Regions from separate parts of the Homo sapiens genome. Here region 2 is linked to region 1. The links come from fine-mapping of genetic effects on gene expression. Tissue or cell type: monocytes after triphosphate RNA. Region 1 holds a variant in brackets; the other region holds the start of a gene. All regions are shown on one strand. Distances are from middle to middle.

Region 1 (10,824 bases):
AAAAAAAAAACATAGATTCAGTTCTGTTCAGTAGGTATGCGGTACTGTCCTAGGTATCTGAATTTCTGTAAAGCTTCCTGAGCAACTCTGATCCAGCCAGGCTTATAGAGCACTGGTGAAGCACATTTCTCAGGCGGCCTCTGGCAGCAGGAATCAAAAGGATTCCTTGTCAGATGTCAGGTCCTGGACTTTTAGGTTAAAGAAATTGGTCATTTTGCCTCTAGTCATACTGTGATGGGGAGGGTCACAGGTGTCCAGTGCCCAGAAATGTGAGTGGAAGCAGCAGCGCCTTGCGTGTGTGTGGTGTAGTCATGGACCCTGCATCCCAGCTTTTCTTAGGCCGTGAACGTACCTAATTTGATGGTCGAAACGCCAGTCGGTCTGACCGTGTCTAGGCCCTGCTCCTAAGGTGTGGGGAGAAGGGAGTCAGCAGAAATCCCACTGAGCTCTCTGTCCCCAGCTGCCTCTTAGGGGAGCCAACTGGCAGGCTGAGGATCTAAGGGGCTGGGGCCTTTTCCTGAGCAAGCTTGAGTGCTTTTGTCCAGAATAGAGGGTATCTGAAATACTTTGATAACAAAAAGGCAAAAAAACAAAAGTCATAAATGCAGATTTTTAAACATCAAATCAGACTAGAAGTTTTAATAGGAAAGCTCTTGCACTGCTGGACCTGACTGCCACCCCTCAGAGGTGACCACTTTTATTACTACTTTTTTAATAGAAACAGGGTCTCACTATGTTGGCCAGGCTAGTCTTGAACTCCTGGCCTCAAGCAGTTCTCCTGCCTCAGCCTCCCAAAGTGCTAGGATCATAGGCATTTACATCACCAAAAGATACCACTAAAATAGCTGCCCCCATTTAAAAAAAAAAATCAGCCTGTCATTAGCAATGGGCTTCCCATTGTGGTGGATGAGATTTAGCTCTCAACTATTTTAGGAGACTGTAGAGATAGATATGTTACGCCAGTTTTTTTTTTTTTTTTGAGATAGATAGCGTCTTGCTCTTGCTCTTGCTCTGTCATCTAGGCCTGGAGTGCAGTGGTGCCATCTCAGCTCACGCCTCTTGCGTTCAAGCGATTCTTGTGCCTCAGCCACCCGGGTAGCTGGGATTACGGGCTTGTGCTGCCTCACCCAGCTAATTTTTGTATTTTTAGTAGAGATCGCGGTGGTAGGGGTCGGGGGGTGGTCCCACCATGTTGGCCAGGCTGGTCTCGAACTCCTGGCCTCAAATGATCTGCCTGCCTTGGCCTTCCAAAGTGCTGGGATTACAAGCGTGAGCCACCACACCAGGCCTTTACCTCTTTTTAATTGGCTATCATTGTTTATAGCATTGTCACAGAATGAACTGAAAATCTATCCATTGTAGAGCCAAACATCAGTAATATACTATGATTGCATTTCCTTGTTCACTGCTTCCTGTTTTCACTTGTGTAATTTTCTGAACACATGTGTACCGAGGGTGATACTTTGCTTAATTAAGCCTGGTTCCCGGGAAGCCTCTCCCTCTGCTTCTCCAGTGAGACTCGCTCTTCCCCATGTCTGTTGCTGAATTCTGGAATCTCTGCTTCTTCCTTGCTTTAGCTTCTGAAGAGACAGAGGAGTTGTCTGCATTCTTTCATGTCTTAAAATGGATTACAATACAGTATTACTGTTTGTCTGGGACTAGAATTTTAAGAGGCAAAGGATACTTCATGTAGCAGTCAGCTGTTTACATGAACCATAGCAAAAAAAAAGGAGAATCAAATCCATCTCCTCTTAATGTTTGCAGAAAGATGCAAACAAAACCAGCTAAGTATGGAACAATGTGTGAGGTTATCAAAGTTTCTATTTTTACGTGATCAAATGATTTGCCTCTCAAAATTCTAGTCCTAGACAAATAGTGATACATGAAGCATCCTTTTTTTTTTTTTTTTTTTTTTTTTTTTTTTTTTGAGACAGAGTCTCCCTCTGTCAGCCAGGCTGGAGTGCAATGGCACGATCTCGGCTCACTGCAACCTCCGCCTCAGCCTCCTGAGTAGCTGGGATTATAGGCGTGTGCCACCACGCGTGGCTGATTTTTGTATTTTTAGTAGAGACGGAGTTTCACCACGTTGGACAGGCTGGTCTCGAACTCCTGACCTCAGGTAATCCGCCTGCCTCGGTCTCCCCAAGTGCTGGGATTGCAGGCGTGAGCCTCTGCGCCCGGCATGAAGCATCTTTAAGAGAGTTTCCATTGTTTAAGTTTTCAGAGTTGTTGAAATTCCATAACATTCTCCTTCTTGGTCTTTTAAATTTGGCCTGTATTCTTTCCTTTATGCCAAACTGCAGAATTTTTCATTATTCTGTATATCAGTCAGTGCCATTTCAGCTGTGCCCTGGTGCGGGTCATTATTGTACTAGACAATTGAGTTCTTATAAAATCCTGTGAGTTGTTACTTTTTTTTGTTTTTTTCAGAATTCTTATGACAGATATTAGACATACTGAATCCAATCTTTTCCATTTTTATTTTGGGGTGTAACGTATTTTACGGCATCCTGTTTCATGGATGCAGTGGCATGTTTGTGCATTAAGACTTCACACCAATTTTGACACCCTCTTCTCATCTCCGTGCAGCTTAGATTGTCGCTTCACCTGCTTGCTAAGTCCGATGCACGCCTGCATTTTACCATGCAGAAATATGTTCAAGCCACTCATCCTCTCATGTCTCTTCACCAGTTCTTTTGTTATGCTGGCATATACCTTTGTTTTTATTTATATTCAAGTTTCCAGACATAGCATTAATGCCTTTACTTTTGTGTTTTTATTTCTGTACACTGTCTTGCTGGGTCTCTAGAGATGACTTGGCTCATCTTTAACCAGAGGTGCTGCGTGAGGGTTTTTATCAGAGACTGCAACACAAAGTCAGGTGCATGGCTTGGGTGTCTTGTTTGGGGATGTTTCTCTTTTTAGATCACTGTTTCCCATCATAACGTGTTTTTGCTACTAAAGCATCGACAGGTTTTGCTTGAAATTTTTTCCAAAAATTACCGGGTACGCCGAAACATGATCCAGTCTCGGTTGACTCAAGAGTGTGGAGAAGATCTCAGTAAACAGGAGGTGGATAAAGTACTAAAGGTACATCCATTTTGTGCATAACAAACAATATCAAAGGCTCTGGAAGGGGCTGACAGTGTGTAGAAGGGACTCTAGTGTCTTTGTGTATATGAAATCAGGCTTCCTTGGGACCACTCCCCAGTCAGTCTTGTCTTGAGCAACTGTTAATGATTGATTGATTGGCATTGGTTGGGGAAGGGGGTATGTGCCAGAGGACTGACCCCTTCAAACAATATAGTCACAGTGGTGTCCAAGGGAAAGAATACAGCCATGGATGCTTTGTTTCTCTTTCTGGTTGGGCCAGGCCAGTAATGCCCCTTTCATCCCTCTTCTCTGCTTGTCACTAGAGACAGAAACTAAAAACCATGGCTTCAGGCTGCTAAGAGCCTAAAACAATAGAACAACAAAAAAATATGGTAGGTTGGATGAGCTTGGCAGTGGGTAGGCGTCTTCTAAAATGATAGGGCCTAGTTGAGAATCCTCACTCTACTCTCCCTTGAATTTTGAACTATCTTCTGATTGTTGCCATAGCCACACACATGACTTTCAGTAGAATCCATTCTTAAATTTAGTTTAAAAAGGAATATGATCTGTTTACTATATGAAAGCACCTAATGTACAACCTATAATGCTTTTCTGAAGTGACTGTAGTACAAATACCAACCATATTTGCAGCAACACTGAGAGACAGAAAACTGATGACAATGTCTTGTTTTGATTAAACATCCAGAGCCATATAAGTAATACTGTTTTTTAAGCACCCTTGTTCTGGGCATGTCAGTATCTGTATTTCGTAGACCCCCTTTTTTTTTTTTTTTTTTTTTTTTGAGATGGAGTTTTGCTCTTGTTGCCCAGGCTAGAGTGCAGTAGCACAATCTCGGCTCACCGCAACCTCTACCTCCCAGTTTCAAGCAATTCTCCTGCCTCAGCCTCCTAAGTAGCTGGGATTACAGGTGTGAGCCACCATGCCTGGCCCACCCTCACTTTTAAAATGCCCCTGAGGAATGGCCAGGCGCGGTGGCTCACACCTGTAATCCCAGCGCTTTGGGAGGCTGAGGTGGGTGGGTCACTTGAGGTCAGGAGTTTGAGACCAGCCTGACCAACATGGAGAAACCCCATCTCTACTAAAAATACAAAATTAGCCAGGCGTAGTGGTACATGCCTGTAATCCCAGCTACTTGGGAGGCTGAGGCAGGAGAATCGCTTGAACCTGGGAGGCAGAGGCTGCAGTGAGCCAAGATCATGCCGTTGCACTCCAGCCTGGGTAACAAGAGCAAAACTCTGTTTCAAAAAAAAAAAAAAACACTACCCCTGAGGAAAGGGTGGCTGGTAGTAGCCATGGTGGTATGGTTAGGCAGTTTTTGATTTCCCATTTGTATTCTATTCACTAATCATAAATCGAGTGTTGACATTGTGGACAGAATGTAATTAGCTCCTTTTCCTGCAAAAATCTGTGCTTACCCTGTTTCTCTCTCATAGGACTGCTGTGTAAGCTATGGTGGCATGTGGTACCTTAAAGGGACAGTACAGTCTTGACAATAGTAGCAAACTACTAACCCAGCAAATCTAAGCCCAAGGAAGAAGGGCGGAACCAGAAGTAGGGCCTCGACTTGCTTCAGACGACACAGAGCAAGAGGAACTGACCATCTCATGACCTGTGGCATTGCACGGTGCAGTGGACAGAAGGGATTATCCTCAGCCAGTC[G/A]CAGGGTCAGCTTAAGTTAGTTAGATCACTCCCAGAAGAGACCAGCTGGGACCTTCTTTGCAGTACAATTTGAAATTCCTGATGTATTTTGCTTATTATTTGGTTTCATTCTCATAATAAAGAGAGTGTATACTGACATGGGCAGGATGATAAAAATCATGGTTTAATATTTTCTTTTGTAAACTTAATGCCAACAAGGTCTAAGTTATGTTTACAACATGAAGAAAACCTCAAAGTTCTTAATTTTTAAAATGCCTAGAAGACAATATTTAGTCTTGGATTATCTATCTGCTAAGACCTCCACCAATTTCATTAAACCAAATTGAATTATTCTATTCTTGGGATTCTGTGGCCACTTCACCTTTGACAACAACCTACTTTATGTAGCAGTCTCAACTGTTTACATGAACCATAGCAAAAAAATCAGAATCAAATCCATCTCCTTTTAATGTTTGCAGAAAGATGCAAACAAAACCAGGTAAGTATGGAACAATGTGTAAGTGAGGTTATCACACTTTGATGTAAAAATTTCTATTTTGTGTATTTTTAAAATAAATGCAAACACTAAACTAGCATCATGGTGCTATCTTCAAATGGTTACAGGAAGGCGATCTTGTTGGGCTCAGCGTTACGTGTATCTAGAGGGAACGGAGCTAATGGAGGAAGACAGAGCAGCACTGTCCACTAGAAAGAGGCGAGTCACGTACATAATTTTGAAAGTTTCTAGCAACCACATTAGTTTAAAAAGGTCATGTTAGCATATTATTTAGCTCAAAATATCTAAAACATCAACATAAGGTAAAAGTCTTCAAAATCTGGCATTTTACACTTTCCTCAACACTCAGTTTGGACTAGCCACATCATAAGTGCTCCGATGCCACATGGGGCTATTTGCGACAGTATTGGATAGCACAGCCCTAGAAACTGATGGAAAAAATAAGAGTAAGCTAGGTTGGATGACATGTGAATTTTGGTATCTAGATAAGGCTTTCGCCATCTTTTTTGTACAACACAGTCACTAATTGTCTGAAGGTTTAAATGACGGTCTATGCTATTTCCCCACTCCCCCCAAAATAAAACATCTAATATTTTAGCTATAGAATCACTAAGGCATTGATCAAGGATGTACTTTGCCAAATAAGTATTTGGTAACATCACTTAACAAGTTGATCGTGTATTGATTCTGTTAACATATGTGAACCTGAAAAGTAAAGTTACCAAAAGCGATTTGGAATATGTCTCAGCTTTTCCATCCTACTTCCTTCTCACTTTGAAAGGGGAAATGCTCATGTGGGACGGCACAGAATGTTAGTCCCATCACCTTGCAGAACTTAATTGGCTCAGTGGAGAAGTCAGAGCCTTAAATACTTTACATTGATAAAAAGAACTGGTTAAAACACCAAACTCAAATAGCAAGAAAAAGAAACAAGGAATATAGGAGGGAACTATTGTTTTAAAAAAAATTGAGGGAACTTGGGATGTCAGAATAGGACTTTCCAGCACTCATCCCCCTGCAGAAACATGAATTTAAACAACTGTCCACACACAAAAATACCTTCACAAGAGTTAAGGAACCTCTAGAGATTACAGCACCTTGGTGTACCACAGAAATAAGATGTACTAAAGAGGATAGGAGGGACAATTTTACATTACCTAGCTTACCCCCTCCCCAGCCCCAGGCAGCACAGGGTGGAGAGAGAGAGAGAGAGAGAGAGAGAGAGACCCTCTACTTGGAGGAAGGAGAACATTGGACCCCAAAATCATGCCAGCCCCAGACTCCAGGCCTGCGCCAGGAACACAGGCTCTAAGCATACCCACTGCCAGGCCTGCACCCATGAGCTCACACTCTAGCAGGCACCCCCTCCCCACCCTGGTCCAGCCCCATCTGAGTAAACCCCAGCACTGGGCTGGCCCTCACAGACTAGGCTCCAATATCCCCTGCAGCCCCAGGTTCTAGGCCAGCCCCCATGGCCCCAGGATCCAAGCGAGCCCTCAGAGACTAATCTCCAGGCCAGTATCTATATACCCCTGGCTCCAGGCTGATCTATATGCCCCCATGCCAGCACCCACAATCCCAGGCTCCAGTACAATACCCCTGGACCCAAGGTCCATGTGTGCCTCAGCACCAGGCTCCAGTGGACCCAGGTTCCAGGCACATACCTCAGTAAGCCTCAATGCCAGGCATGCCCTGGCGGACTGAGGCTCCAGAACAGTCCCTATGGACCCAGAACCTAGGCCCACCCCTGCAGGTTTTTAGGCTTCAGGTCAGCTCCCTGGATGCAGGCTCCAGGCCTGCCCTTGTGGACTCAGGCTCTGGTTGTACCCCTGCAGACCCAATCAACTGGCCCACTCCACTGGACCTACGTTCCAGGATTAATCCTATGCATGCAAGCACCAGGCTCATCCATCTGCTGACCTAGGTACTAGGTCAGCCTGCTCAAGGACTCCAGCAACAAGCCTGCCCACAGAAGACCACACCAGACAACTTGCCCAGAATCTCTGAATGGGCTCACTGGTAAACGGCTGTTCCAGGCAAAGTCAGACTGCAAAGATTAGAATCAGTCCTTACCACTTCATCCAATGTACAGACATCAACATATGACCACAAGGATCAAGAACAATCAGGGAGACATGCTATCACCAAAGTAACAAAATAAAGCACCAGAAATCTACCCTAAAGAAATGGAGATTTATGAACTGCCTGACAACTCAAAATAGTTTTAAGGAAGTTCAGCAAACTTCAAGAAAATACACAGATATAACTCAACAAAATAAAGAAAACCAAATCAAGAAACCTAATAGATTGAAGTTATATATTTTTTACAAACCATTCTGAAGCTGAAAAATAATATGAATGAAATGAAAAATGGAATAGTGAGCATCAACAGAATTGATCAAGCAGAGAATCTATGAACTCAAAGACAGATTATTTGAAAATATAGCCAGAAGAACAAAAAGAATGAAAAGGAATGAAGAAAGCTTAAGGGATTTATAGGACAGCATCAAAAGAGCAAATATTTGAGTTATAGAAGTTCAGTAAGGAGAAGAAAGAAATAAATCACAAAATAGTAGCAGAAAACCTTCCAGATCTGGAGAAAGATATAAATATCCAGGTATAAGAGTATCAAAAGTCTCCAATCAGATTCAGTATGAACAAAACTATACCACGACACATTATAATGAAATTGTCAAAAATCAAAAGACAAAGGGGAAGATCCTAAAAGCAGCTAGAGAAAAGAAGCAGATCACATATAAGGGAGTTCCAATAAGGCTAGCACTTCTCAGCAGAAACCTTACAGGCCAGGAGAGAGTAGGATGATATATTCAGAGTGCTAAAGGAGAACAAATTGCCAACCATGAATACTTTATCCAGCAAAACTTCAGAAATGGAGAAAAAGACATTCCCAGACAGACAAAAGCTGAAGCATTTCATCATCACCAGCTCTGTGTTTACAAAAAAATGTGAAAGGGAGTTCAAGCTGGTAGAAAAGGATGTTAATTAGTAACATGAAAACATATGAAAGTATAAACCTGGTAAAAGCATAATGTCAAACTCAAGAATACTCTAATACTGTAATGGTGGTATATATATTGCTTATCTTTAGTATAAAGGTTAAAAGATAAAACTATTAATAGCTAATTTGTTAAGGGATACAAAATATAAAACTTGTAAATTGTGACCTCAAAAACAAAATGTGGGAGAGAGAATAAAGTATAGTTTTTAATGCAATCAAAGTTATCTGCTTAAAATAGTCTGCTATCACTGTGTTTTACATAAGCTTCATGATAACCACAAAGCAAAAACCTATAGCAGATATGCAAAAGATAAAAAGGAATCAAAGCATACCTCTAAAGAAAATAAATCACAAAGGAAGACAGTAAGAGAGAAACAAAGGATCTACAAAACAACCAGAAAACAACAAAATTGCAGTAGTAACTCCTTACCTACCAACAGGGATAGGTAAGGAGTTACTACTGTGAATGTAAATGGATTAAATTCTCCAATCCATTTACTGTGAATGTAAATGGTTTAACTCTTCCATAATCCAAAAACGGAGTGGCTGGATTAAAAAAAAAAAAAAGATCTAACTATATGCTGCCAAAAAGTGTCTCATTTAACCTGTAAGGGACACATAGAGACTGAAAGTGAAGGAATGGAAAATGGCATTTCATGCAAATAGAAACCAAAAGAGAACAAGAGAGCTATACTTACATTAGATAAAACAAACTTTAAGTCAAAACTGTAAAATGAGACAAGGTCACAGTATAATGATAAAGGGGTCACTTAACAACTGTAAATATTCACTCAATATCTGAGCACCTAAATATAGAAAGCAAATATGAATAGCTCTGAATGGAGAGACAGACTGTAATACAATAATAGTAGGGGATTTCAATATCCCACTTTCAGTAATGGACAGATCAAGGCCAAAAAAAAAAAAAAAAATCAATAAGAAAGCATCAGATTTTACACATTAAACAAAATGGACCTACCATATACAGGAGATTCCATCCAACAGCAGAATACACATTCTTCTCGAGCATACATGGAATATTCTCCAGGACAGATCATATATTAGGGCGGTATCTTTTCTGACCACAATGGTATGAAACTAGAAATCAGTAACAGGAGGAATTTCAGAAAATTTACAAATACGTGGAAATTAAACATGCTCCTGAACAACAAATAGGCCAATGAAAAAAACTAAAAGGAAAAATTTTAAAAATATCTTGAGACAAAAATGGACACAAAACATGAAATACAACAAAAGCAGCTCTGAGACAGAAGTTTATAGCAATCCCCACCCACATCAGAAAGAAAAGACTTCAGATAAACAACCCAATGTTACACCTCAAGGCACCAGGAAAATAAAAAGAACTAGGCCCAGTTAATAAAAGGAAATAGGCCAGGTGAGGTGGCTCACACCTGTAATCCCAGCACTTTGGGAGGCCAAGGTGGGCAGATCACCTGAGGTCAGGGGTTTGAGACTAGCCTGACCAACATGGAAAAACCCCATCTCTACTAAAAATGCAAAAAAATTAGCCATGTATGGTGACACGCTCCTATAGTCCCAGCTACTCGGGAGGCTGAGGCAGAAGAATCGCTTGAACCTGGGAGACGGAGGTTGCAGTGAGATGAGATTACGCTACTGCACTCCAGCCTGGGTAACAGAGCAAGACTCCATCTCAAAAATACATACATATATACATAAATGGAAATAATAAAGACCAGAGCAAGACTACGTCTCAAAAATAAATAAAAGAAAGGAAATAGTAAAGACCAGAGCTGAAAAAAATGAAAAGATCAACAAAATTCAGTTGGTTTCTTGAAAAGATAAAATTGACAAACTTCTAGCTAAGAAAAAATAGAGAAGACTCTCATAGAATTAGAAATGGAAAAAGATAATCCCAGCACTTTGGGAGGCCAAGGCAGGTGGATCACCTGAGGTCAGGAGTTTGAGATCAGCCTGGTCAATATGGTGAACCCCATCTCTACTAAAAAATACAAAAATTTGCTGGGCATGGTGGCAGGCACCTGTAATCCCAGCTACTTGGGAGGCTGAGGTAGGAGAATCACTTGAGCCTGGGAAGGGAATGTTGTAGTGAGCTGAGATCCCACCACTGCACTCCAGCTTGGGCGATAAGAGTGAGACCTTGTAAGAAAGAAAGAAAGAAAGGAAAGAAGGGAGAGGGAGAAGGGAAGACATTACAACTGATTCCATAGAAATACAAAGGATCAGGCCAGGCACGGTGGCTCATGCCTGTAATCCCAGCACTTTGGGAGGCCAAGGTGGGCGGATCACTTGAGGTCAGGAGTTTGAGACCACCCTGGTCAAAGTGGTGAAACCCTGTCTCTACTAAAAATACAAAAAATTAGCCAGGCATGCTAGCAGGTTCCTGTAATCCCAGCTACTTGGGAGGCTGAGGCAGGAGAATCACTTGAACCCGGGAGGCAGAAGTTGCAGTGAGCCAAGACCATGCCATTGCACTCTAGCCTAGGCAACATGAGCAAAACTCCATCTCGAAAAAAAAAAATTAGCTGGGTGTGG
Region 2 (10,824 bases), 38 kb before region 1:
CATCTCTACTAAAAATATAAAAATTAGCCAGGCTGAGGCGGGAGAATCACTTGAGCCCAGGAGGCAGAGGTTGCAGTCAGCCGAGATCACACCACTGTACTCCAGCCTGGGTGACAGAATGAGACTCCATTTCAAAAAAAAAAAAAAAGATTAGAGAGAAGTTAATAAAGAAAACTTTTCTGTTGGTTTTGTTACAGCATACGTCAAAATTTTATTACAGTCTTGACCGGGCGTGGTGGCTCACACCTGTAACCCTGGCACTTTGGGAGGCCAAGATGGGAGGATTGCTTGAGGCCAGGAGTTCAAGACCATCCTGGTCAACACAGTGAAAGCCCATATCTTAAAAAAAAAAAATCACAGTCTTGCTGCAAGTGTAAACCCACTGGGAATTCAAAGATTTATACTTGGTAGGGACATTTTCTAAAAATTTATTTTTTATTACAGTCTGCCTATGTAGATTAAACTGCACGCTCTTAAGTATACAGGTTGATGAATTTTTACATTTGTACACATCTGTGTCTTAACAACCCAATTCAAGATATTAGAACATTTGCAGGCCTACAGAAGCCCCCCTGGACCCCTTCCCAGGCAATACACCCTCTCTCCACCCCGAAAAATGTTGGCCACTCTTCTGACCTCTATCTTGATAGAGACATTTTCTAGGAGAAGAAAATGATTAGATAATCACTGTTAGACAAAATAGAAAAGAAAAGAATGTTCCGTTAAAGGTCACTGCACTCTTGACTGACAAATGACCATCAACTGAGTGAGTAGAAAGCTAGTTTCCCAGTGTAAATCTCAATGCTCTTAAATTTCAAAAGAAAAATGCTCAATGCTCGAGCATTTATCAGAAATGCTAGTTTCTTTCCAGAAGGAGGTTCTTACAGAAAGATATGGTCTCAGGCCAGGTTTGAGAGCATTTTCCTTTTATGGGAGCAAGGGAGGAAAGAATGGAGGGGATCCAGGACTGAGACCCCACACCCATTTCCACTATCCACAGCCTAGTGTTTATGATATAGGGACAGGCACACAAAGAATAGTCGGAGTTTCAGCCCATCCCTCCCTTGTCAGGCATCCCGCTGCTGAGACCTTGTAGGTCCAGGGGTTCTGATGCAACATTCTGCATCTCTTGCTCATTGATTTCATGTCTGATTGTCATGAGAAAACTGTGTAAGGGGCTGCTGGACTGTAAGAAACTCTCAAAAGGGTGCTGTGCCTTCCAGGATCAGCTGTTTCCCTGCAGGCTTCCTCTTAATTAAGCATCCTGCTCAGTATGTGTTTGTAGAAAGAGACAAGTTGCTCCAGAATGTTCTAGCAGAAATATCTCAGCCTTAGGAGTTCAAGACCGGTCCTGGCAACATAGCGAGACCCCTGTCTCTGTGAAAAAAAAAAAAATTTTAAGTAGCCAGGCATGGTGTCATGCTCCTGCAGTCCCAGCAACTAAGGAGACTAAGATGGGAGGATCATTTTAGCACAGAAGGTCAAGGCTGCAGTGAGCAATGATTGTGCCACTGCACTCCAGCCTGGGAAACAGAGCAAGAACTTGTCTCAAAAAAAAAAAAAAAAATTCTACACACACACACACACACACACACACACAAAGACACACACACAGCTTCATTTGAGCCTTTGCCTTGCAAGGGGGAGGGGGTTATTGTTTACAGTTGACAACTACCAAGTAGCACTGGGCTTTAGCAGAGAAAGGGAATTTATTACAGTGATAAAGGGATGCCTCCAAGAGTGGACAACCCACTGGGCCTTGGAAAGGGTCTGGAGCTGGAAGCCAGAAAACCATCAGGATTTCCCTGACTCTGCTCTTCTCACTCTCTCATTCCCTCTTTTTCTATACACTGGCTTTTGTCTACCTCTCCAACTCACCTCACAGAATATAGCCATGCGAAATCCCCCTTTCTTCCTAGTTTTAGCCAGCCTCAGAGACTAATTCCAACGCAACACGGTCAAATTAACAAATCGGGCCGGGTGCGGGGGCTCACGCCTGTAATCCTAACACTTTGGGAAGCTGAGGTGGGCAGATCACTTGAGGTCAGGAGTTCGAAACCAGCCTAGCCAACATGGTGAAGCCCCATCTCTAATAAAAACACAAAAAAATTAGCCCGGCATGGTGGCGTGCATCTGTAATCCCAACTACCTGGGAGGCTGAGGCAGGATAATTGTTTGAACTTGGGAGGCAGAGGTTGCAGTGAGCCGAGATCACGCCAGTGCACTCCAGCCTAGGCAATGGATCGAGACTCTGTCTCAAAACAAACAAACAAACAAAAAAAAAACAAAATCAGTAACTCACGGAGTCTCAGTTCACATTCTCAAGAGAGAATTTGATTGGTCCAACCTGAATCCTACGTCCACTGAAGAACGGTAGAACCCACTAGCCATGGCTGTGGGGGTGGGGCGTGCAGCACAAAGGTGGCTGCCAGGGACCCACTCTCTGGCTGGTCAGGCAGTTCCTAGAAAAATCAGACTGGGCAAAGATGCCAGCAATTATCCTTGACTGTGAGGATATTTCCTTTTGGAAAATCCAGTACCCAACTCACAAACAAAGTCCTTCCTGGTACTAAAATACCATGACAAACACTCCTATTGACTTAAAGGGGTTATTCCTCATTCAGCTTTGAACTCCCCACAATGCCTACCCTTTGTCTTCAATCCATGGCTGCTTCTGTATTTTTTTTTAATGTCTTGAAGAGCAACAAACTTTTCTAGCACAAGAAAATCTTTGCATATCATTACATATGTTAAAGGTAGATGGATGGCCAGGTGTGGTGGCTCACTCCTGTAATTCTAGCACTTTGGGAGGCTGAGGTGGGAGGATAGCTTGAGATCAGCCTAAGCAGCAAAGCAAGACCCCGTCTCTACAAAAATACAAAAGTTAGCCCAGTGTGGTGGCGCGTGGCTCTAGTCCCAGCTACTTGGGAGGCTGAGATGGGAGGATCATTTGAGCCCAGGATGTCAAGGCTGCAGTGAGCTGTGATCATACCACTGTACTCCAGCCTGGGCAACAAAGCAAGACCCCGTCTCTCTAAAAAAAAAAAAAAAAAAGGTGGTGGATGGAGGGGGAGAAAAGCCAGGCTAAGGAGGGATTGAAGAGGAAAGACATAAAATGCCCAAATGTTAGGGGTGTGTACCAACTGGATATTAGCCAGAAACTTGAATCATGGCCCTGAAAAGTCTAATACCAGTCAATGCAAAATGAGAATTCTACTTATAAAAGTGTGATTTATATAGTTTTTGATGTGTCTAAAGCATCACCAGCGTTCGTAGAGTTCCTGCCTAATTCCCCCATTCAGTCACCTTAAGCATTGACTCCACTCCCTGTGTTGAACAGAACTAATGGAGAAAGTAATCCACGTAAATGACAGAGGGAAAGAGAAACGATAGAGAATGATAGAGGACAAAACCTTAGATATGAGGGATATTTGAGATTTCTTACGCCAATAAATGTGAAAAATCAAGTAATGGGGCTTTGTTTTCCCAGAAAACGACAACTTGCCAAAGTTGACTCAGGAAGAAATAGAAAAAAAAAAAAAGTCATCAAAAGTCATATAATTTGGCAAAATGGAAAAATATATGCATATCTATATCTATATAGAGAGGGTCTCACTCTCTCACCCAGGCTGGAGTGCAGCACCTGAATCTCGGCTCACTGCAGACTTGACCTCCCTGGCTCAAAGGATCTTCCCACCTCGGCCTCCCAAGTAGCTGAGACTACAGGCACATGCCACCATGCCCGGCTAATTTCTTTTCTTTTGTTTTTTGGTAGAGACAAGGTTTCTCGATGTTGCTTAGGCTGGTCTTGAACTCCTGGCGTCAAGCAATCCTGCCACCTCAGTCTCCCAAAGTGCTAGGATTATAGGAGTGAGCCACTGAGACCAGCCTATTATTAATATTATTATTATATAATACTAGGGAAAGTATAAATATAGACCAGCAATTTCATTTCTAGTGTATACCCTAGAGAAATGTCCATACGTAAGACAAGGAGCCATGTGCAAGGATACTTCCTGCCATATTGTGTGTAATGACAAAAATTTAGTAACAACTTAAAAGTTGTACATGGCATGGAATGAATGAATTAGATCTATAGGCATCATAACAGACCTCAAAAACATAATGTTGGGCCTGGCACAGTCTCTCATGCCTGTAATCTTGGCTACTTGGGAAGCTGAGGTGGGAGGATGGCTTGAGCCCGGGAGGTCTAGGCTACAGTAAGCTATGATTGCACCACTGTACTCTAGCCTGGGTGACAGAGCAACACTCTCTTAAAATAATAATAATAATAATACTGTTGAAATGAGAAAAGCAAGTTTTAGGATATCAGTACAATGTGCTAACATTTATATAAGTGAAAAACATACAGATAACCATTTTAGATATTATTCATAAATTTTATAGTAAAAATGTAAGAAATTATTGGAAAGATACACATCAAATTCATGACAGTTATAGACAGGGGAGAATGGGAGGGGGACTTATTTCTATTTGCAATGGTCTAATAATTTCTATTTGTAATAGTGTGATCTATTTTTTATTTATTTATTTATTTATTTATTTATTTATTTATTTATTTATTTGAGACCGAGTTTCTCACTGTCGCCCAGGCTAGAGTGCAGTGGTGGGATCTCGGCTCGCTGCAACCTCCGCCTCCCGGGTTCAAGCAACTCTCCCGCCTCAGCCTCCCGAGTAGCTGGGATTACAGGCATGTGCCACCACGCCAGGCTAATTTTTGTATTTTTAGTAGAGACGCTTGAACCCAGGAGGCAGAGATTGCAGTGAGCGGAGATCGCACCACTGCACTCCAGCCTAGACAGCAAGAGCGAGACTCCACATCAAAAAAAAAAAAAAAAAAAAAAAAAAAAAAGAAAAGAAAAAAGAAAAGGAAAAAAATGCCACAATACTAAGTCATTAATTTAATGCCAGGTGGTGGCACTATGGATGATAATTTTTTTCTTTGTAATTTTTGTGCATTTTTGTTTTTAATATCTTTGCATATCCACACGGATAGGTATTTTAAAATACAGTCTGGTGAAAAATAACAGCCAATTGCAGATCTATATGAATAATGTGACAATATTTGTGTTCAAATCCATACACAATAAAAACAAAGCTATCTTCTATGGCTATATCTATATATATCCATATAGATATAAACATATAAATTCACAGCAAAAGATCTAGAAAGATATATAGTGTTTTAGTCCATTTTCTGTTGCTTATAACAGAATACCTGAAACTGGGTAATTTGTAAAGAAAAGGAAGTTATTTCTTACAGTTATGGAGTCTGAGAAGTCCAAGGTCAAGAGTGTGCATCTGGTGAGGGCCTTCTTGCTGGTGGGGGACACCTGCAGAGTTCCCAGGCAGTACAAGCCATCATATGGAGGGGGTGCTGAGCTGCTCCCTTGCTAGCTAAGGTCTCTCTCCCTCTTCTTATAAAGCCATCAGTCCCCCTCCCAAGATAACCCATTAATCCATTAACCCATTAATCCATGAATCCATGAAGAGATTAATCCATTCATAAGGGCTCCACCCTCATGATCTAATCACCTCTTAAAGGGCCCACCACACAATACTGCCACATTGGGGATTAAATTTCCAACACATGAAATTTGGGGGACACATTCAAACCATAGTTCATATTAAACAGATAATAATGGTTAGTTACCTCGGCGGAGGGGCCTAGGATGCGAGTCAAGGTCAAAGAGCATTTGTACCTTATCTGCAAAGTTTAAATATTTTGCAATAATTCGCGTGTTATTTGTGTAAGTAAAAATTTAAACATAATTTTTCAGAGACAACTGCCCAGACCAGCTCCAGGGTTTGGCCGTCAGATCCCCTGGTGCATGTTTCTGATCAGATCAATTTCTTCTCCCGGAGACACCCAATCCGGGTCGTATGGATTACCTGTGGGTTAACCAGGGGTCTCCGGGTTAACCATCCAACTCAGAGTAAAGTTTCTAAAAATGCGTTTTGCTCTAATACCTATTCGGAACCAACCTGGGTCTAAAGACTGGAGCAAGTGTTTATTTTCCAAAACACGGCTTTTTAAAATAATTCTATAGGGATCACCTTGAACACACGTTAAGCAAAAAAAAAACCTCAGCGAAAACGCCTCGCAATGTCCAGATTAAATGCAAAAGCAAAAGCATTAAGTAGCTTTCTGGCATAAACATATTGCAGCTGGGTAGCGTGGCCGAGCGGTCTAAGGCGCTGGATTAAGGCTCCAGTCTCTTCGGGGGCGTGGGTTCGAATCCCACCGCTGCCAGGGTTGCTGTCTTTTTGTCCCCGCTGCATACACTCCTGGCTCAGTTTTGCGCGTGCCATCAGCGCCCCCTGCTGCAGGGCGGGGCTCACGGCCTGCATGAATGGCGCGGCGGAGGGGGCGGAGCCGCGTGCACCGGGGCGGGGCATTGTGGGTAAGAGGAAACGCTGGGGCCGGCCCGCTCCCCCCCACGTGTCCGCCGGAGTTTCTCCACCAGCAACATGGCCGCCGCCTGAGAGGAGAGCCGGGCCGCCGCCGTCTCTGCAGCCCGCGGGTAACTGGGCCGTTGCCGCCGTCCGCGCTCGGCCCCCGCGGAGAGGTGAGTCCCGTCTTGGCAGTGCCCGAGCTGGGGCTTGAGCCGGACCGCACTCACGACGTGGGCCTGGGCTAGATTCCCGAGTAGGCCAAGGAGGCCCGCGCCGCGCTGTGCCTAGCAGCTGGAGGCCTCTCGGGACTCGGGCGGGGAGGAGGGGCAGCCGGCTCCAGGCCGACCCCGGACTCTGACTTCCTTGACCTGACACCTGGGAGTTGGGGAGGCCGCGGCCGACGCTGGCGGCGGTGACTCAGGGTCCAGCCGACCTGCCCTATCCGGGCCTGGGAGGCCTCCTACGGAAGAAACACCTGTCCGCGCGTCGGGTGTAGTGGCGGCTCGCGGCAGGGACTGCGTGGTGGGCGTGAGAAGGGGGGCCTGACCACCCGCGAGGGAGCAGAAACCCATTGGACAGCGAGGCTCGGGATCGGCGGCCCGCCCCGATGGGCAGGGAGGGCACCTGCGCCTGCCGGAGCCCCCACTTCGCAGCTGAACCGGATTAGCCTCTGCCCGGCGAGGCCAGGGATTCCTCATTCATTTATTCAGGCAACCATTCAGTGTTTACCGAGCCAACTCTGTGTTCCGGATACAGCCCTGACCATTCGGTCCGAGGAGGTGTCAGTAAACAAACAAGGTCGTTCCTTTGGGTTAGCTTTAGAATTCCTTGGGCTTGGAGGCGGAAAGAAGAGATCTTAGCGATCTCCACAGTTTCCTCATCTGTGAAATAGAGATAATAGAAATTCCTACCTCATAGGGTTGTGGTGACGGCTCAGTAGAAACCGGGTGACGCTCCTGCTTGCAGCGTTTGACTTGTGGCTTAGCGTCATTACCCGCTTACGTTGGCAGAAAACATGTTGTCAAGTAATAACAAACCTTCCCAGAGGTTACGTTTATTAGCGTCCTGTCCTTACTCCTTCCCCGCAGGGGTCTGGAGGTCGGTACTTAGTTTCCCTACTTTAGGGATGAAAATAGGGAGGAATACCAAACCCAGACAACTCAGGTGGGTCACAGATGCCAAGCAGCTGTGGTGGGATTTGAACCTGCACAGTTTTGTTCTCGGGTCCAAGCTCTTACCCACTTAACCATACTGCCGTTTATCAGAAAACCGTGCAGTATAGTGGTTAAGAATAAGAATAAGGATCTTTGACATAGCGAGACCCAAGTTTCTGTCCTCATTCCACCTTGGATGAGTTGCTTATATCTGAACCTCAGTCTCGTCATTTCCAAATTGAAGATGATAAATCTCTATTGATAGGGCTAATGAGAAGATTAAATATAAAGTATTCTTTGTACTATATTGAGTGTCAACTTCGTGCCAGGCACTGTTCTAGGTATTGAGAGAACCAGCACTGGATTTTTTTTTTAAAGTAATGCTCCCCATAACAGCTTTGATGAAGTAAAGTATGATTGTCTGCATTTCATAGTTGAGGAAACTGAAGCACTGAGAAGCCTTCATGGAGCTTACGTTCTATTGCAGAAGACAAACAACACCTGAGCAAATAGACCAGGTAGTTCCAGATTAAGATGAGACCCACCAAGGAAAGAAAACAGAGATGTGGTAGGGCCTGGGAGGAGGCTGGGGGAGGCTTTTAAAATAGGGTGGTCAGGGAACCTATCCTCTCCTGCAGGCGGTGATGATATTTAATAAAAAGGAGCAACCTTGGAAATCCCTGTGGGAGAATAGATGATGTGCAAAGGACCTGGGGTGGACTGGGGCTTGCCTTGTTGGAGGCCCAGCAAGTGGCTACCAGCCTGGATGGTGAGGGGAAGACAGAGACAAGATTATGTAGGGCCTTAGGTGGCTCATGGAAAGGAGTTTGGGTTTTATTTTATGTGACAGTGGCAGTTGACAGGTCTTAGGCAGGGAAATAATATGATTTACTTTTTTTTTTTTTTTTTTTTTGAGATGGAGTCTTGTTCCGTTGCCCAGACTAGAGTGCAGTGGCAAGATCTCGGCTCACTGCAACCTCTGCCTTCTGGGTTCAAGTGATTCTTCTGCCTCAGCCTCCCGAGTAGCTGGGATTACAGGCGTGCATCACCACGCCTGGCTAATTTTTGTATTTTAAGTAGAGACGGGGTTTCACCTTATTGGCCAGGCTTTTCTGGAACTCCTGACCTCAGGTGATCCGCCTGCCTCGGCCTCCCAAAGTGCTGGGATTACAGGTGTGAGCCACCGTGCCTGGCTTTGTTTTCCCCCCAGTAGAGATCGAGTCTCACACTGTGACCCAGGATGGAGCGCAGTGGTGTGATCATAGCTCACTGCAGCCTCAAACTCCTGGGTTCAACCAATCCTGCTGCCTCAGCTTCCCAAGTAGTTGGGACTGCAGGCCATGCCAGGCTAAAATTTTTTTTTAAAGAGAGACCGGGGGGCGGGGGGCGCCTCACTATGTTGCTCAGGCTGGTCTCGAACTCCTGGTCTCAAGCAGTCCTTCCACCTAAGCCTCCCAAAGTGTTGGGATTACCGGCATGAGCCACCATGCCAGCCTGATTTACTTCTTTCCAAAGACTCACTGTTGCTGGGAGACTTGGAGGTAGGTATAAGGAGCCGTAGGGAGACTTGGATGAGTGCTTTTCACATTGCAGGTTAAAATTTATTAGTGGGAAGTAAAATCAATTTAAGGGAATTGAAGCTAGCATTTTTTGTTTTGAATGAAGTAGAAAACATCACGGCCTGACATATAGTAGGGACAGTTATAGTTACGTGAAACCTTGTTTCAGTTATGCAACTGTATGTATGTTCTGGGTTATTTATATGAGATGGATTTCTTACTGTGGTGGATCTTAGGCTGAAAACTTTGAAAGCCACTGAGTTGGATCACCTCGGCCTGGAGGATGAAGGGAGGTGACACTCTTTGTATCAACCCAGATGTACTATCCAGAGGAAGGAGCTCCAGCTCTCTAGCTGACAGGGCACCTCAGCCTCCCTGATCCCTGGCAGGGCAGAGGCCAACAGGGCATAGCAATAGCCAAGAAAGAACAATTGCGTCTTGGGAACCTCCCAGGCCCCAGCCTCTCAGTTGTCCACTGCCCAGCTGCAGAGAAGGCAGGAGCTTGACATATCTGTGGCACTTGGCAGCCGGTGCAGATGGGGTGAGGCCTTGGGCTCTCCGCTCTACACTGCCCTCTGTCTGCACAGCAGACAGTCGAGATGCACTGAAACTGTCCAGATGCGACTCCTGATTTTCATTCCATCCTCCATCTCTGGGACTGTTACGATAGCTGTTTCCCTGAAGTTTCTCTTTCTACCCGCTCCATGTCTTCCTCTGCCCGAAATCCTTCTGTAGCTTCCTATTAAATAGCATTCCCATGGTTCATTTATTTAGACAACAAACATGTATTGAGTGCCTGCTGTGTACTAGGCACTTGGGGTACCACAAGGGACAAAATAGACCAAAATCTCTGCCTTCACATAGCTTACAGCTTAGTGGCAATAGAGATGGGCACAGATGCAGAGCTGTAAACTGTCACATGGTGATAGACACCTGCTATGGAGAAAACCAGAGCAGAGAAGGGAATTGAGGGGTGGGGGAGGCAGTTTGCAATGTGATTTGGAGAGGGAAGGTCTTAGCCACAAGGTGACATTTGAGCAAAAACCGGAAAGAGGTGAAGGGGGGACCATGAGGTTATCGGGGGGGTAGAGCAGCTACAAAGCCCCAGAAGTGGGTTTGGAGCAGAGAGGAGGGTAGGAGGCTTGTGGGAGATGAGGTCTGGCAGGTCAAGGGGCAGGAGATTGTTTAGGGTTTACATGGGATGATAAAGACTTTGGCTTTTGTCTAGGTGTGGTGGCTCATGCCTGTAATCCCAGCACTTTGGGAGGCCAACACAGGTGAATCACTTGAGGCCAGGAGTTCGAGACCAGCCTGGCCAATATGGCAAAGCCCCGTCTCTACTGAAAATACAAAAATTAGCTGAGCGGATGGTGCATGCCAATTATTGCAGCTACTTGGGAGGCTGAGGCAGGAGAATCACTTGAACCTAAGAAGCAGAGGTTGCAGTGAGTCAAAATCACGGCAGAGCACTTCAACCTGGGTGACAGAGCAAGACATGTCTTAAAAATAAATAAATATTAGATAGTTCAAATGTTAAGTAGATCAGACAAAAATCATGCTGGTCTCAGCCGGGCGCAGTGGCTCACGCCTGTAATCCCAGCACTTTGGGAAACCAAGGCGGGCAGATCACCTGAGGTCAGGAATTCAAGACTAACCTGGCCAACATGGCAAGTCCCTGTCTCTACTAAAAATAG

What was found. PIP is the estimated chance that this variant, and not a neighbour inherited with it, causes the effect.
Region 2: it holds the start of POLR3E, and the variant in region 1 is fine-mapped to the expression of POLR3E in monocytes after triphosphate RNA (Kim-Hellmuth 2017, PIP 0.95). The same link has a PIP of 0.9 or more in B cells, CD8 T cells, NK cells, monocytes and monocytes after interferon gamma.

The regions. Positions count from the first base shown.
Region 1 is chr16:22,329,096-22,339,919 of GRCh38, forward strand. POLR3E (RNA polymerase III subunit E) reads left to right here. Exons shown (of 21, transcript NM_018119.4): 20 at 2,965-3,090; 21 at 4,549-6,001. The coding sequence ends at 4,605. It overlaps LOC124903664 (a long non-coding RNA gene), which reads right to left. Exons shown (of 2, transcript XR_007065026.1): 2 at 4,815-9,387. Among named protein-coding and RNA genes, the nearest start is that of POLR3E, 37 kb to the left of the region's middle. The variant G/A (reference allele first, on the strand shown) is at 4,775.
Region 2 is chr16:22,290,948-22,301,771 of GRCh38, forward strand. It overlaps POLR3E (RNA polymerase III subunit E), which reads left to right and starts at 6,462. Exons shown (of 21, transcript NM_018119.4): 1 at 6,462-6,590. TRL-AAG2-4 (tRNA-Leu (anticodon AAG) 2-4) reads left to right here and starts at 6,193; the gene lies at 6,193-6,274. RefSeq lists silencers at 6,083-6,532, 7,543-7,682, 9,541-9,835 and enhancers at 6,206-6,750, 7,193-7,332.